Homo sapiens: one gene and its partner. The protein of the gene in region 1 interacts with the protein of each later gene in a biochemical or structural test. Each region holds a gene or a part of one and is shown in the gene's direction. Other genes may lie near its edges.

Evidence for each region. The genes of interacting proteins can lie anywhere in the genome.
Region 2: the proteins of SNIP1 (region 1) and DPF3 form a complex in vitro, tested with the Homo sapiens proteins (one study listed by BioGRID).

What each region holds. Positions count from the first base shown.
Region 1 is NC_000001.11:37,544,234-37,547,887, reverse strand, and holds part of SNIP1 (smad nuclear-interacting protein 1), read left to right. Parts: intron 1-2,429; exon of another isoform or gene 2,430-3,325; intron 3,326-3,654. UniProt on the Homo sapiens protein: Required for pre-mRNA splicing as component of the spliceosome. As a component of the minor spliceosome, involved in the splicing of U12-type introns in pre-mRNAs. Down-regulates NF-kappa-B signaling by competing with RELA for CREBBP/EP300 binding.
Region 2 is NC_000014.9:72,765,003-72,768,656, reverse strand, and holds part of DPF3 (zinc finger protein DPF3), read left to right. Parts: intron 1-3,654. UniProt on the Homo sapiens protein: Belongs to the neuron-specific chromatin remodeling complex (nBAF complex).

The sequences.
Region 1 (3,654 bases):
GGCATGAGTCACTGCACCTGGCCCTGAGATAATCTTTTTTATCCACTGGGGATCCTGGAACCAATCTCCTGAGGATACCAAATGATTACTTTATTCTTTTCTCAACCTCTGAACCACCATTTTGTGTTTTTTTTTGGTTGTTGTTGTTGTTTGTTTGGTGAAGTGTTGCTCTGTTGCCCAGGCTAGAGTGCAGTAGTGTGATCTTGGCTCACTGCAATCTTTGCCTCCTGGGTTCAAGCGATTCTCGTGCCTCAACCTCCCCAGTAGCTAGGATTACAGGCACGTGCCACCATGCCCGGCTAATTTTTGTATTTTTAGTAGAGACGGGGTTTCACCATGTTGGCCAGGCTGGTCTCAAACTCCTGACCTCAAGTGATCCACCTGCCTCAGCCTCCCAAAGTGCTGGGATTACAGATATGAACCACCGTACCCAACTGAACCACCATTTTCGAAACAAATGTATTGATTACATGCTCATTGTAATAATACAGAGGTATGTAAAATATAAAATGAGAGTATGGTTTACTTCTCTCGTCCCCAAAATTGCACCACCTCCTCAACCAAAAAACCTCCACCTCACTTGCCAGAGGTAATCACTATGATATAGACTCTCTGTCCATCATCACATGGCCTTCTCCCATGAATCTCTCTATCTCTTCTCTTCCAAGGTCACCAGTCACGTGGGATTAATGACCTATATTACTTCAGTATGACCTTAATTTATTACATCTGCAGTGACCCTCTTTCTAAATAACGGAGAGATAAACATTTGAGACTCACCTGCATATAGGTGTATGTAAAGTATTAGGATTAGATGAAAATTACTAAGGAAATGACTGTAGATAGAAGAACAACCAACAAAGGACTGAATCCAGGGGCGATCCAGTGTGAAGAAATTGCAGTGACATCAGCAAAGAAGACTGGAAAGAAAGAGAAGCAAGAGAATCTGGTAACTTGAAGCCATTAGAAGGAAGTGTGTTGAGGATAGAGTGATTAACTCTGTTAGATGCTGCTGATAGTTAAGTGAAATGAAGACTGAGAATTGGCCACTGGATTTAGCAACATGGAGGTCACTGGTGATCTTGACCAGCAATTTTAGTGGAGTAATAAGGGTGAGACCTGATTGGAGGGGTTCAAGGGAAGACAGAGGAGAGGAATTGGGAACTGAATTTTTAAAAACAATACTTTTTCTTTCTTTCTTTCTCTTTTTTTTTGAAACAGAGTCTCACTCCGTCACCCAGGCTGGAGTGCAGTGGTGCAATCTTGGCTCACTGCAACCTCCACTTCTGGCGTTCAAGTGATTCTTCTGCCCCAGCCTCCCAAGTAGCTGGGACTGTAGGCACGTGCCACCACATCCAGCTAATTTTTGTATTTTTAGTAGAGATGGGATTTCACCATGTTGGCCAGGCTGGTCTTGAATCCCTGACCTCAAGTGATCCACCCACCTCAGCCTCCCAAAGTGCTAGAATTACAGACATAAGCCACCACACCCGGCCGTTATGGCTTATTATAATGACTCTTAATAAGGGATAAAGGACATGATGAGATTAGTCCTGGTGAACTCAAGGCAGATAGCAGTGGCAAGCTTGTAAATGTTTTGGAGTAGGAAGGGTGGTTGTCTGAGGCTCTCTCTTGATGCATGTCTGTGCTAGGCTAGGAAGTCTAGAAAAACTGAGTCCCACTCTAAGCAAGCAGCCCCTCACTTGAGCCCTGTGTATGGCAGGGAGCGGGGGGGGGGGGGGTCTTAGTCCCAGTGCTTCCACTTTTAGGGTATTGCGAATAATGCTGCAATGAACATGGATGCTCAAGTATCTATTTGAGACCCTGCTTTCATTTGTTTGGGATATCCAGAAATGGGATTGCTGGATCATATGGCGATTCTATTTTTAAATTTTTTATGGAACCACTGTACTGTTTTCCGCACTAACTATACCATTTTACATTCCCACCAGCAGTGTACAAGGGTTCTGATTTTTCCACATCTTTGCCAATACTTGTTATTTTCAGTTTTTTGATAGTAGCCATCCTAATGGGTGTGGAGTCACCTAAATTTTTAGTTTTTAATTTTATTTTTATTATTATTTTTAGAGAGGGCGGCGGGTGGGTCTCACTATGTTACCCAGGCTGGTCTCGAACTCCTGGACGCAAGTGATCCACCCGCCTCGGCCTTCCAAAGTGCTGGGATTACAGGTGGGAGCCACTGCGTCCTGCCTGCCTAATCATTTTTATTATTATTATGTATTTTTTAAATTAGGGGCCATGCTAATTTTTGTGTCATTCTAATTTTCTCCCTAATCATTTTGAAAGTCTCTTACTGCTCTCTGCTTTAAAATTTTTAACCTTAATTATCTGTAAACATTTTTGTACCTTACCTAGTCCATAACAAGAAGTTTTTTCTTTGTTTTTTTTTTTTTTTTGGTGGGGGCGGGGGGTACCAAATTTCTTTATTTGAAGGAATGGTACAAATCAGCTTAAGTGGATGTTTTGGTACAACTTATAGAAAAGGTAAAGGAGACCCCAACATGCATGCACTGCCTTGGTGACCAGGGAAGTCACCCCATGGCTATGGGGAAATTAGCCTAAGGCTTAGCTTTCATTATCACTGTCTCCCCGGGGTGTGCTTGTCAGAGAAATATTCTGCCAAGCCAGATTCGGGTGCCCTCATCTTGCGCAAGTTGGTCACATGGTCACCCAATTCTTGATGGATTTCCCCTGCTCATTCAGGTAATGTGTTTCAGTGAAGTCACACAAATGGGGGTAATTTTGTCGGTGGCCAGTTTGTGCAGTTCCAGTAGTGACTGATTCCCAAGTTTTTCCAAATGTAATGCATGCTCCATCGCATTCAGCCTGCTCTCCCAGTCATCATGGTCTGGTTTCTTGAAGTCCCGAAGGAAGAAGATTCAGCCACCTCATTGGTTCTGCAGCTTCATCAGTTTCTTGGCATGTTCCCTCTCCTCATGAGATTGGTGAAGAAAGTATTTGGCAAAGTTCTTCAAAGCCACATCATTGTGGTCAAAGTAGTAAGACATGGACAGGTAGATGTAGGAGGCATAGAGCTCCACGTTGATCTGGCGGTTGATGGCGGTAGTTCTGGCGCACCTGCGAGGGGGACGCGCAGTCGTCATGGTGGTGGCCACGGTGGCTGTGCGGCGGTGGCTGCACGGCGCTGGAGTGGCGGCGGGGGCCTTGGGACAGTCAGAGGGCCCAGTGAAGAGGTAACAGAGGGCTAGCTATGGGCGGCCAGCCGGAGTGGGGTACGAGTGCCTGGTTCCGTCCAAGCACTGTTGAACCAGGAAACTCCAGGGACTTTCCGCAAAGAACGTCTCATTTTTTTCTTTTTGAAACAAGAATACACAACAACATTTTTGTACATGAATGAAGTCCTTGGGGATCTACATCTATAAGACTTGTTTCTTTCTTTCTTTTTTTTTTTTTTTTTTTGAGACAGAGTCTCATTCTGTCCACCCAGGCTGGAGTGCAGTGGCGTGATCTCGGCTCACTGCAACCTCCGCCCTCCGAGTTCAAGTGATTCTCCTGCCTCAGCCTCCCAAGTAGCTGGGATTACAGGCGCCTGCCACCGCGCCCTTCTAATTTTTTGTATTTTTAGTACAGACAGGGTTTCACCATCTTGGCCAGGCTGGTCTTGAACTCCTG
Region 2 (3,654 bases), on another chromosome or scaffold:
TCTTTATTAAATCAACTTTTATCTTGAAATAATTAATAATTGCAATTGTGACTGTATTTGCAATTTGCAGTTGCAAATATAATAGAGATCCCCTATCTTCTTCATCCAATTTCCTCCAAGATTAATACATCTTACAATATCAAAACCAAAAAACTGACATTGGTAAAATGTGTATATGTAGCTTTATGCCATTTTATCACATGTCTAGATTTGTGTAACCACTTCTACAATCAAGATACAAAACTATTCTATTACCACCCAACACTCATTATTTAAATCCTTTTACCCTCCTCCCTTTATAATATAGTTGTCTTAAGCATTTCCTTTACATACATTGAAAACCATACCAGTGTTATAATTTTTACTTCAACCATCAAACATAATTTAGAAAACGTAAGAGAAGCGTTTATTGTATTTACTCATATTTTTACTCCTTCGTTGTTTTTCTTACTTACTGAAGTTCCAAGATTCCTTCTTTTAGCATTTACTTTCTGATGTAGTACTTTCTTTAGCCATTCTTTTAGAGTAAATCTGATGGTAACAACTTCTTAGTTTTCCTTCAGTGGAGAATGTCTTGATTTTGCCATCATTCCTGGAGGATATTTTTGCTGGATATAAAATTCTGAGTTGATAGTCCTTTTATTTTAGCAGTTGAAAAAGGTTTTGCCACTTCTTTCTGATGGTTAGTGATGAGAAATCTGCTGTCATTTAAATGCTTTTTTCCCTTATAAGTAAGGTGTCATTTCTCTCTCATTGTTTTCAAGTTTTTTCTTTGTTTTTAGTTTCAGAAACGTGATTTTGATGTGTTTTGCCATAGATTTTTTGGGTTTATTCTGTTTGAGTTTACTCAGCTTCTTCAACCTGTGGGTTTATGGGGTTTTTTTTTTTTTTTTTTTGCCAAATTTGGGAATTTTTCAGCCATTATTTCTTTGAATACTTCTTCAGTTCAACCCTCTTTCCCCTCTCCTTCTCGGACTTCAACAACACAAATGTTAGATCTTTTGTTATAGTCCCATAAGTCCCTGAGGCTGTGTTCATTTATTTTTAAAATTCTTCTCTCTGTTGCTCAGCTTGGGTGATTTCTATAGTTCTCTCTTCAAGTTCATTGCTTCTTTATTCTGTCCTCTGCCTTCTGCTGTTAAGCCAATCCATTGAGAGCTTTTTTATTTTTTGTTACAATTTTTTTCAGTTTTCAAATTTCTATTTGGTTCTTCATATTTTCTATTTCTTTGCTGAATGTGTTTTATGTGTTCATAATTGCTCGTTGAAACACTTTTAATGATGGCTGCTTTAAGATCCTTGTCAGATAATTCTAACATTTTTGTTATTTTCTTGTTGGTGTCTGTGTCTTTCCTCATTTGAGATTTTCCTGGTTCTTCATAAGATGAGTGGCTTTGACTGAATCTTGGACATTTTGGCTGTTATGTTATGAGACGCTAGATATTATTTAAATCTTCTATATTAGCAGGTCTCCTTTCAAGCTATGCTAGTAGGGGAGGCGAGGCTCCCCTTATTACTGTCAGATGGATGTGGAAATCCATCTTCTCTACTTGGCTTCTGTTGACATCCTCTTTAACAGGGGAAGAACACCTTGTTGTTGCTGAGTGGAGGTGGGAGTTCAGGCTCCCCACTAGGCCTCTACTGGTATTATCCTACTTGGGAGGAGGAGGGCCTCTACTGATACCACAAGGCACCAGCTCTTCCCTTGGCCTTCTCTGACACCAACCCAGCAAAGCTATTGGGATGCCTGCTTGTCTTGCTAGGCTGGTCCTTTCCTGGTTCTCTGGCTAGAGAGAGCAGGATTTTCTTGAGGTCTTTTTTGGTCTTCATTTGTTGGTGTTTCTGGGTTATCAGCTTTTCCAGAATCCAGTCCAGGATATATGAGGCATAAAGGAGACCCAAGATCGGGCTGGACACAGGCTCATGCCTGTAATCCCAGCACTTTGGGAGGCCAAAGGAGGAGGATTGCTTGAGCCCAGGAGTTCGAAACTAGCCTAAGCAACATAGTGAGACCTTGTCTCTATAAAAATTTAAAAAATTATCCAGGTGTGTTGGTGCGTGCCTGTAGTCCCAGCTACTTGGGAGGCTGAGGTGGGAGGATTGCTCAAGCACAGGAGTTTGAGGCTGCAGTGAGCCAGGATTGCGCCATTGCACTCCAGCCCAGGCTACAGAGTGATACTTTGTCTCAATAAATAGCTAGCTAGCTAGATAGTTAGATAGCTAGATAGATAGGTAGATAGATAAAATAATACCCAGGGAGCTCACCACCCACCCTGTTGTTTCTCAGGTCCCAAAGTCCCTAGCTGGTCTGACTGGTTCCCTTCATCTTTCAGTTATTTCTTATGTCTGTTCTATGAATAATGTCCAGGATATTTAGTTGTGCTTAGTGAGAGGAATATAAAAAAGTGTATCTATTTCATCTTTCCAGAAGCAGAAGTCCCTGAGATTGCCTTGTTATTAAAAAAGTTTAACAGCTTTATTGAAGTATAATTACATACAATAAATTGCACATACTTAATGTGTCCAGCTTGATAAGTTTTGACATATATTCACCTGTGGAACCATTACCACAATCAAGATAATGAACATATCCATGACTCGCAAAGGTTTCCTATGTGTTTAGAAATCTATCCTTCCTGCGCTTCTCCATGCCTCTACCCTTCTTTACTCCCTCCCCAGAGAAGCCATTGATTTGCTTTCTATACCAGAAACACACACTGTATACTCCCTTTTGTTTTTTTTTGAGATGGAGTCTCGCCTTGTTGCCCAGGCTGGAGTGCAGTGGCGCAATCTCTGCTCACTGCAAGCTCCGCCTCCTGGGTTCACGCCATTCTCCTGCCTCAGCCTCCCCGGCTAATTATTTTTGTATTTTTAGTAGAGATGGGGTTTCACCGTGTTAGCCAGGATGGTCTCGATCTCCTGACCTCGTGATCCACCCGCCTCGGCCTCCCAAAGTTCTGGGATTACAGGCGTGAGCCACCGCACCCGGCCTGTGTACTCCCTTTTTTAGGGACAAGGGCATGTCTGGCTTCTTTCACTTAGCATAATTACTAATTAATACTATATCAATAATTCCTTTTTATGCTGAGTAGTAGTCCATTGCATGGCTGTATCACAGTTAATTTATCCATTCACCTGTTGATGGACATTTGGATTTGTTTGCAGTCTTTGACTACTATAAATCAAGCCACTATGAACATTTGTGTACAAGTTTTTGAATGGACATATGCTTTCCTTTCTCCTTGAGAGGTTAACTACCTAGGAGTAGAACAACTAGATCATAAGAGAGATAGATGTTTCACTATTAAAGAAACTGCCAAGCTCTTTTCCAAAGTGGTTGTACCATTTTACATTGACTCCAGCAATATATGAGAGTTCCACTTCCTTTGTATCCTTGCCAACACTTGGTGTGGTCAGTTTGAAAATTTTTTTAGCCATTCTAATAGATATATAGTAGTATTTCATTGCAGTTTCAACTTGCATTCCCCTAGTTAATAATGATTTTGAGCATCTTCACATGTGCTTATTTGCCATCTGTGAGGGAAAATAAACTGTTTTATTCTCTATACTTTTACTCAATATTTCTGTGAGCAGATGTGTGGATGTCTTTTCCCCTACACCAAGCAATTCTCCAATTCCCTGCGGACACCAACT